2 linked regions of the Homo sapiens genome follow. The protein of the gene in region 1 purifies or fractionates together with the protein of each later gene. This does not show direct contact. Each region holds a gene or a part of one and is shown on either strand. Other genes may lie near its edges.

Region 1 (4,031 bases):
TCCCTGAAACCCTAGTACCATTCACAGCAGGATTTCAAAGGTTGCCTGTTGCGTGAGCATTCTATAGGATCCCAAATTATCTTTCTGTGCAAATATGAATTGTTGTGATATGTCCGTAGAGACGGCACAACCTCATGGCTAAGAATGATAGTTACCAGTTCTAGAGATCCTACTCTAATTGCTCTAGAGTGGGGGCCTGAACACCAGTATTACAAAAAAGACAAAAGAAAAAGAAGGAAAAAAGAAAAAAGAAAGAGAGAAAATCAAAGCTACCTTCATCATGTATGAATTTGAGCAAGTAACACCTTTGTGAGTCCCCAGGCCCCAGTTTCTCATTGGTAAAATGAGGATAACAATTACACAGACCTTGTTGGGCTATGTACAGAATTAAATGAGATTATGTACCTAAAAGGCTTGTGGCACAGTGACACACACACACACACACACACACACACACACACCCAGAGTACTTCGTGGTTATTTCTAGGCTTTACTGCTTGAAAGGCTGAAAAGATGGGTGGATGAGAGGTGCCCTGAGGTTCCTTCCAACTCTCCAAGATTCTGTGATACTCCTCCTTGGGTGCTGAAGACACTTTGGCAATGTTTGGATTTCCAAACGGTTGCTTAGAAAACTAAGGGACCCACGAAGCCCAGGTAAGCCTCAGGGTCTTTCCCAGGAATCGTTTATTTATTTGATCTTAGTTCTGACCTAGAGCCTCCACCTTCTCCATCCAAATCACCACAGTGGTCGAAAAGGGCCTGTGCTTGGGAAATCCTTCCTTTGTTGGCGAATCTTGGACCCAAACCCTGCATTTGGGCATCTGACACCCATAGGCCCATGGTTCAAACCCAGGCGGCTCTTTCCAAGTTCGAAGCAGGGACTCGGTTCTGCGCATCTGGCGGGTGTGCCCAGATTGTAACCTTCGCACTAGGCATCCAAGAACGTGCTTTGGACACACTCGGCGGTGGGAGCGGGTGCTTGGTTTGCATCAGGGATGAGGGGTGGAGTAGCGAAAGCGCCCGGAGCGCGCACTCACTCACACTCCCCAAGCCAGGGCGCGGCCGCTCTGGGCGCGAGGTCCCAAGCCAAGTCTCGCGCTCGGCCAGGAGCCGGGGAGTACCCCAGGTCCCCGGTCTGGGGCCGCCGCTATCCTACCCTGCGGCGCGCACTCCTGACCTGGCCCCGCCCCCCGGCGGCCGCGAGTAGCGGGCGGAGCGCAAGCAGAGAGGCGCTCTGGGCTGTGCGGCACCGCCTCTCCTCGGTGTCTGGGGAGGGACGGAGGGACCGGGCGGGAGAGAGAGAAAGCCTGACCGACCGGCTGGCGAAGAGCTGCATGCAACCGGTGGGAGGCCGGGCCGGCTGGGTCTGGGGCTCGGGCTCAGGCTCGCACCGTTTCTCGGCAGGTCCCTGGCGGTGAGCGCGGACGGCCCGGAGGCGGCGGCTCTGAGCTGGCAGGCGGAGGGCTGTCTCCTGCGCCCGCCTGCCCGGCGCGGTCCGAGGATGCGGGGGGGCGATGCCCGGGGCCAGGGACGCGCTCTGTCACCAGGCGCTGCAGCTGCTGGCCGAGCTCTGTGCCCGTGGGGCCCTGGAGCACGACAGCTGCCAGGATTTCATTTACCACCTGCGGGACCGTGCCAGACCCCGGCTCCGCGACCCAGGTGAGTGCCGCCACCGCCGCCTGGAGGGACCTAAGGGCCCTGGGCTGGGACTTGGGGCCGCACCGGGGCCTGAGGCAGAACAGCGACGCGGACTGGGAGAGGGCGGGGGGCGGCCACCGAGCCAGGAGAGTGATCAAGAACCAGCGCACTGTGGCCTGATGCTGTAACCAGGCGGGGACCCGGGCGGTGGCTACTGCACGGAGGCCGACTCCGGGTCGGCTAGGGCAGGGTTGGAGGGACCACGCCCGCCACCTGCGCTCCCATCGCCAAGGCTCCTGGGGGCGGCTCCCTAGCTCCGAGCTACGCTCTCCACTTCCCGGGCTATCTGCACTCAGAGCGAGGGGAGGCCGCGGCGGCCTCGGAGCCGTGGGAAGGGGGACGAGGCCGAAGGAAACTCTGGGAAGTTGGGAGTTGGGGACGGCCCCGGGTTGGGGCCGAATCCCACCGGGTGCTGCTCATCCTTTCTCCCAAGCGTCTAGTTCCTTTCCTTGGTATGGGGTGAGAAGGGCGGGACGCGATCCGGCGTTGGGCCGGGGACAGGGTGCTTCTGGCCTTGGGCAGACGGGCCTGAACCCGTTCCCGGCGGGTCGCACGGCATGGAGGTGGCCTGGGCCTGGGCGCTAGGCTCGACCAGCGACTACCGCCGGCCACGATGGGGTTCGTAGACTCGTCGGTCCTGGCTTGTGCACCTGTAGTTACTCCTAGTGAAAGTTGCAAAGCTCTTAACTTTGGAAAGTTCATTTATTTTGGCATTTGACCAATTAAGGTTGGAGGAGGGAGTTTTAGTGGAGCCATTTGCTTTTCCTGAGGTCCCTGGGTCTCCCAGGTCGTCTCATCCGTTACTGGCTACTGGAAAATGCATTCCTTCCAATGTTTGCTTGAGATGTTTCTCACCTGGAGAAATAGTTTTCTCGAATATTCTCCCAACCTAAGTACTTACCAAAACAGCATATTGTGGTTGGATTGTTAAAAATGGGATGAGAAAATGGCCTTTCTCTTGATATTGCTATGTATAAATATTGGAAATGAGCTATTGCCTTGCAAATTATGATGTACGAATTGAAAACAATTTATTATATAAAAATCCATTTATCCAAAAGATAAATTAAAGAATTATTTGATTTATAAAGAGTGTCACACTGAGCCAGACTTAAATAGCATATCCTTGATATATTCAAGATGGTCGTGTGGGGTGAAGTCATCTGCTAAAATTTTAAAGTTTATATCAGATTTTCCCTACCAGAGGCTTTTTTTTCCTATTGAAAAAGAAAAAAATATTGTTTTCCATTGCCGGTGGTTATATTAACTAAGTTTATTGAATGATCATTGATATATTACTTCAAAGTGGATAATTGGGTAGAGAAATACTGATCCCAGTGGTTTCCAGGGAGGTTTAATGTCCAGCCTATGTGCATCTCATTGCTGGATGTGATGTGCTGAATAAACCACAGTCCCTTATCTCACAAGCTGGAGTCCCAGGAAGATGTCTTAAGTCGGGGAAGTTCGTCCTTAAGCAGCAGAAGCAAGACAATTATTTTGCATGCTTTGCCCAAAGCAAGTATTAGTATTGAAACATCTCACTTCCTTGCCTGTGACCAGACCACGAGTTCTCCTTGTTATCCCACATAAGCAGTTGTCTTTGGCTTTACAAGAGAAGATGGATGAGGCCTATCTCTGAATCACATCTTTTTGGCCAGTTTTCTGCTTCTACTCCTTTTAATCCGGGAGCTGGATCCTGTGTTCTCAGATTCTCTTCAGCCCCTACACCAGGCAACCCCTGAGAAAGAGTCACTAAGTAGGCTTCTTACAAGAGGAAATCTGATTCCTTGGCGGAGGAATAGCTAGAGATAGGAGTCGACCTTGCTGCTCTGAGTTCCTGATAGCAGTGCTCTGCTTTCTTAAACTAGGACACAAGGGTTTTGAAGTAGCCCCATGCCCCTGTGGCTCTTTGGTTTTTGTTGGAAAGTAGCCAGCTCATGAGGACAGGGGTGGGGGTTTTCGAGTGCAAGGTGAGAGGAAATGAGGCCAAAGATTACATCCAAAGTGCACCCTCTCCTTCAGGACACTTCTCCCTTCATTTCCAAATCTCCCTTCATTTCCCTCCTTCCTTGCCTTGCCGACATTAATTCTTACATCAGATGCATTTGTCTTCATCCCTCTGAAGCAAGAGTGTCTTTAATCTCGGAACCCTAAAAGCTGAGTAGTAGAAAAGCTGCACCACACAACGCCGTGTGAATAATGTCCCTGCTGTTGATAGTGTGAACCAGAACAACCATGCACAGCAGCCCTGAGACATGGGTTCCTAGAGAGAGTCATCTCGGTAAATGGATGACTTCTTTTTCTGGAAAGGAATCCACCTGAATGCCATGTCC
Region 2 (3,500 bases), about 40 Mb from region 1:
GAAGTGCAGGTTAGTGCTAGCTAGTTGAGGAGTCTGGTTTGATCCTGATCCACCCTGGAGGGATCCTGAGAGTGACTTCAATTTTTGTTACAATGACTGAGTCCAGATTAGATGGCCTAGGTCTGTTTTTCAGAAACAGAGCCCCAGGCGTTAAGCTGGAAATTAAGTCATTGGTAGGGATAGGTAGGTGAACCATTATTTATCTACATTTTTTTTTTTTTCTTGAGACGGAGTCTCACTCTGTCACCCAGGCTCGAGTGCAGTGGTGCGATCTCAGCTCACCACAGCCTCCACCTCCTGGGTTCAAGCGATTCTCATGCCTCAGACTCCCGAGTAGCTGGGATTACAGATGTGTGCCACCACACCCGGCTAATTTTTTTGTATTTTTAGTAGAGATGGGGTTTTGCCATGTTGGCCAGCTGGTCTCAAACTCCTGACCTCAGGTGATCCGCCTCGGCCTCCCAGAGTTCTGGGATTACAGGCGTGAGCCACCATGCCTGGCCTATCTATTTTTTAACATTCGATTCTGTGAGCTCATGAGCCTAGACACGAGGCTAGGCAAGCGTCAAGTTCTCCTATCATTAGTATGAAAGTGGAAGACCTTCTGACCTCTGCCTCTGGCCGGGAAGAAGTTGAGAGGGATGAGTCCCTTAGGCACAGCAGTGGATCTTATCAGTACTTTTTTTCCTATTAGACTTCGATTTTCAGAATTCCTCCTGGGAATGCTGACTCCTTGCTTGGTGCCCTGATGCTTCTCTGAGATAAACTGATGAATTGGAACCATGGTGCAAAAGAAGAAGTTCTGTCCTCGGTTACTTGACTATCTAGTGATCGTAGGGGCCAGGTAACCAAGAAGAGATTGACTTTTGTCTTAATATCTGGGATAGCCATAAAATCTGCAGTTGTTCCCTTCTCCGATTTCCATGTTGCTTTGCATAGCTCATCTTCTCCTGTTATTTTACCCTGATGGGAGCATCGAAGCCAGTAGGGAAAAAACAAAATCAGGTGGATTGAAAGCAAAACCCTGCTCTTAACTAACATCTTCTTGATGTCGAGCAAATATACTCTTTATACCTCAGTTTTCTTATTTTGTAAAAAGAAAAAGTACATTATAAGCTACTCCTCTATGTATACTTTTTTGGTAATTTATTAGTTAATTCACTTTAAAAGATGTTAATCATCTTAAGGTGCCAGTGATAATTTTATTGTCAAAATCTCCCCTTCGTTTCAGAATAGATGCCTTCATGACAGTGTAGACTTCACTTAGGTTACCAGCTCCATGCGGCAGGCAGCACCCATATTTTCCAAGGTGTTACAGTCAGGTTACTTTATCCAAAATAGCATCTTGAGCTTTATTTGTTGACTGTGGTTAAAATTTGATAGCCCATTCCATCCCTTCAGGCTGCTGAATTTGTCTTTATGTTCTTCAGGCACCCGAGCAGTGATAGCGTGGCCCAGACTCCTGAATTGCTACGGCGATACCCCTTGGAGGATCACACTGAGTTTCCCCTGCCCCCAGATGTAGTGTTCTTCTGCCAGCCCGAGGGCTGCCTGAGCGTGCGGCAGCGGCGCATGAGCCTTCGGGATGATACCTCTTTTGTCTTCACCCTCACTGACAAGGACACTGGAGTCACGCGATATGGCATCTGTGTTAACTTCTACCGCTCCTTCCAAAAGCGAATCTCTAAGGAGAAGGGGGAAGGTGGGGCAGGGTCCCGTGGGAAGGAAGGAACCCATGCCACCTGTGCCTCAGAAGAGGGTGGCACTGAGAGCTCAGAGAGTGGCTCATCCCTGCAGCCTCTCAGTGCTGACTCTACCCCTGATGTGAACCAGTCTCCTCGGGGCAAACGCCGGGCCAAGGCGGGGAGCCGCTCCCGCAACAGTACTCTCACGTCCCTGTGCGTGCTCAGCCACTACCCTTTCTTCTCCACCTTCCGAGAGTGTTTGTATACTCTCAAGCGCCTGGTGGACTGCTGTAGTGAGCGCCTTCTGGGCAAGAAACTGGGCATCCCTCGAGGCGTACAAAGGTACAGTTTGCTGCTGATGCCTAATGGGGGAAGCATTTAGAGATTCCATGTAATTGGTCTTTGAGGGGCATAGGAAATTTCCTCTACAGCTCAAGGTCCTTCAGACCTATTAAGCATATTTAGAGTATTTAGAGTTAATCTTTTTTCTTTTGGAGACAGTCTCGCTCTGTTGCCCAGGCTGGAGTACAGTGGTGCGATCTCGGCTCACTGCAACCCCTGCCTCCTGGGTTCAAGTGATCCTTCTGCCTCAGCCTCCCGAGTAGCTGGGATTACAGGTGCACGCCACCATGACCAGCTAATTTTGGTATTTTTGTAGAGACAAGGTTTCGCCATGTTGGCCAGGCTGGTCTCAAACTCCTCACCTCAGGTGGTCCACCCACGTTGGCCTCCCAAAGTGCTGGGATTATAGGCGTGAGCATCATCCCCAGCCAAGAGTTAATCTTTACTAAGCAAAAGACTGCTGCAGAGTTAGACCTCTTTCCAAAATTGTGTTTGGAGTAATGCTGGAATTTGGTGTTTTAACTGTGGTTAGGACAGTAAGTCTTACCCAGTATATATCTTTACATTTGCTTTTGCCATTGTATATACTTTCCGGTCCTATCTGAGCTCAGAGACTGGGCTTTCTTAATGATGCTCCGTTTCCCATTGTCATCATTAGAGCCTCTGTGGTGATACTGAGTTGCAGTAGGGTATCAGCTTCTGATGCTAATGTGTCTGATTCCTGCTGTCTGCTTCTCAGGGACACCATGTGGCGGATCTTTACTGGATCGCTGCTGGTAGAGGAGAAGTCAAGTGCCCTTCTGCATGACCTTCGAGAGATTGAGGCCTGGATCTATCGATTGCTGCGCTCCCCAGTACCCGTCTCTGGGCAGAAGCGAGTAGACATCGAGGTCCTACCCCAAGAGCTCCAGCCAGCTCTGACCTTTGCTCTTCCAGACCCATCTCGATTCACCCTAGTGGATTTCCCACTGCACCTTCCCTTGGAACTTCTAGGTGTGGACGCCTGTCTCCAGGTGCTAACCTGCATTCTGTTAGAGCACAAGGTGAGAGGCAAGCTTCCTAGACCTTTCTAGGGGAGAAACTCTTAAATATGCCAGTGGCCAGACCACGAGCTCTTAGAGGACAGGGACTACATATTTTTCACCTTTTTGTCTTCAGGAGGTAACATGATGCCTGGTAAACAGCAGGTGTTCCGTAGATGTGGGTTGAATTAAGATACTGGTATCATGTGGGATGTATTTAGAGGGTTTACCATTCATTAGGGCTTATCCTTAATTGTACTGACCTAATTCTTTGGAAATATCAGTAGTTCTGTTTCAGTGAGTGGTCCTGGGATGGGCAGTACAAGAACTAGGAAGGTAAGGGAGTGATTTGCATATCTCAGGTGACTGAGGATCACCATTGTGCCTGGATTGGGAGGTGGCAGGCATGGTGGGGCAGGGGGCAGTGGGAGAGACAAAGCTGGAGCTGTAG

The links. The genes of interacting proteins can lie anywhere in the genome.
Region 2: the proteins of SYT9 (region 1) and MADD purify together in Homo sapiens (affinity purification with mass spectrometry; one large-scale study listed by BioGRID and IntAct). This does not show direct contact.

What each region holds. Positions count from the first base shown.
Region 1 is NC_000011.10:7,250,673-7,254,703, forward strand, and holds the start of SYT9 (synaptotagmin-9), read left to right. Parts: upstream 1-1,231; 5' UTR 1,232-1,514; coding exon 1,515-1,659; intron 1,660-4,031. UniProt on the Homo sapiens protein: May be involved in Ca(2+)-dependent exocytosis of secretory vesicles through Ca(2+) and phospholipid binding to the C2 domain or may serve as Ca(2+) sensors in the process of vesicular trafficking and exocytosis.
Region 2 is NC_000011.10:47,273,133-47,276,632, forward strand, and holds part of MADD (MAP kinase-activating death domain protein), read left to right. Parts: intron 1-694; 5' UTR 695-782; coding exon 783-844; intron 845-1,430; coding exon 1,431-2,027; intron 2,028-2,766; coding exon 2,767-3,070; intron 3,071-3,500. UniProt on the Homo sapiens protein: Guanyl-nucleotide exchange factor that regulates small GTPases of the Rab family. Converts GDP-bound inactive form of RAB27A and RAB27B to the GTP-bound active forms.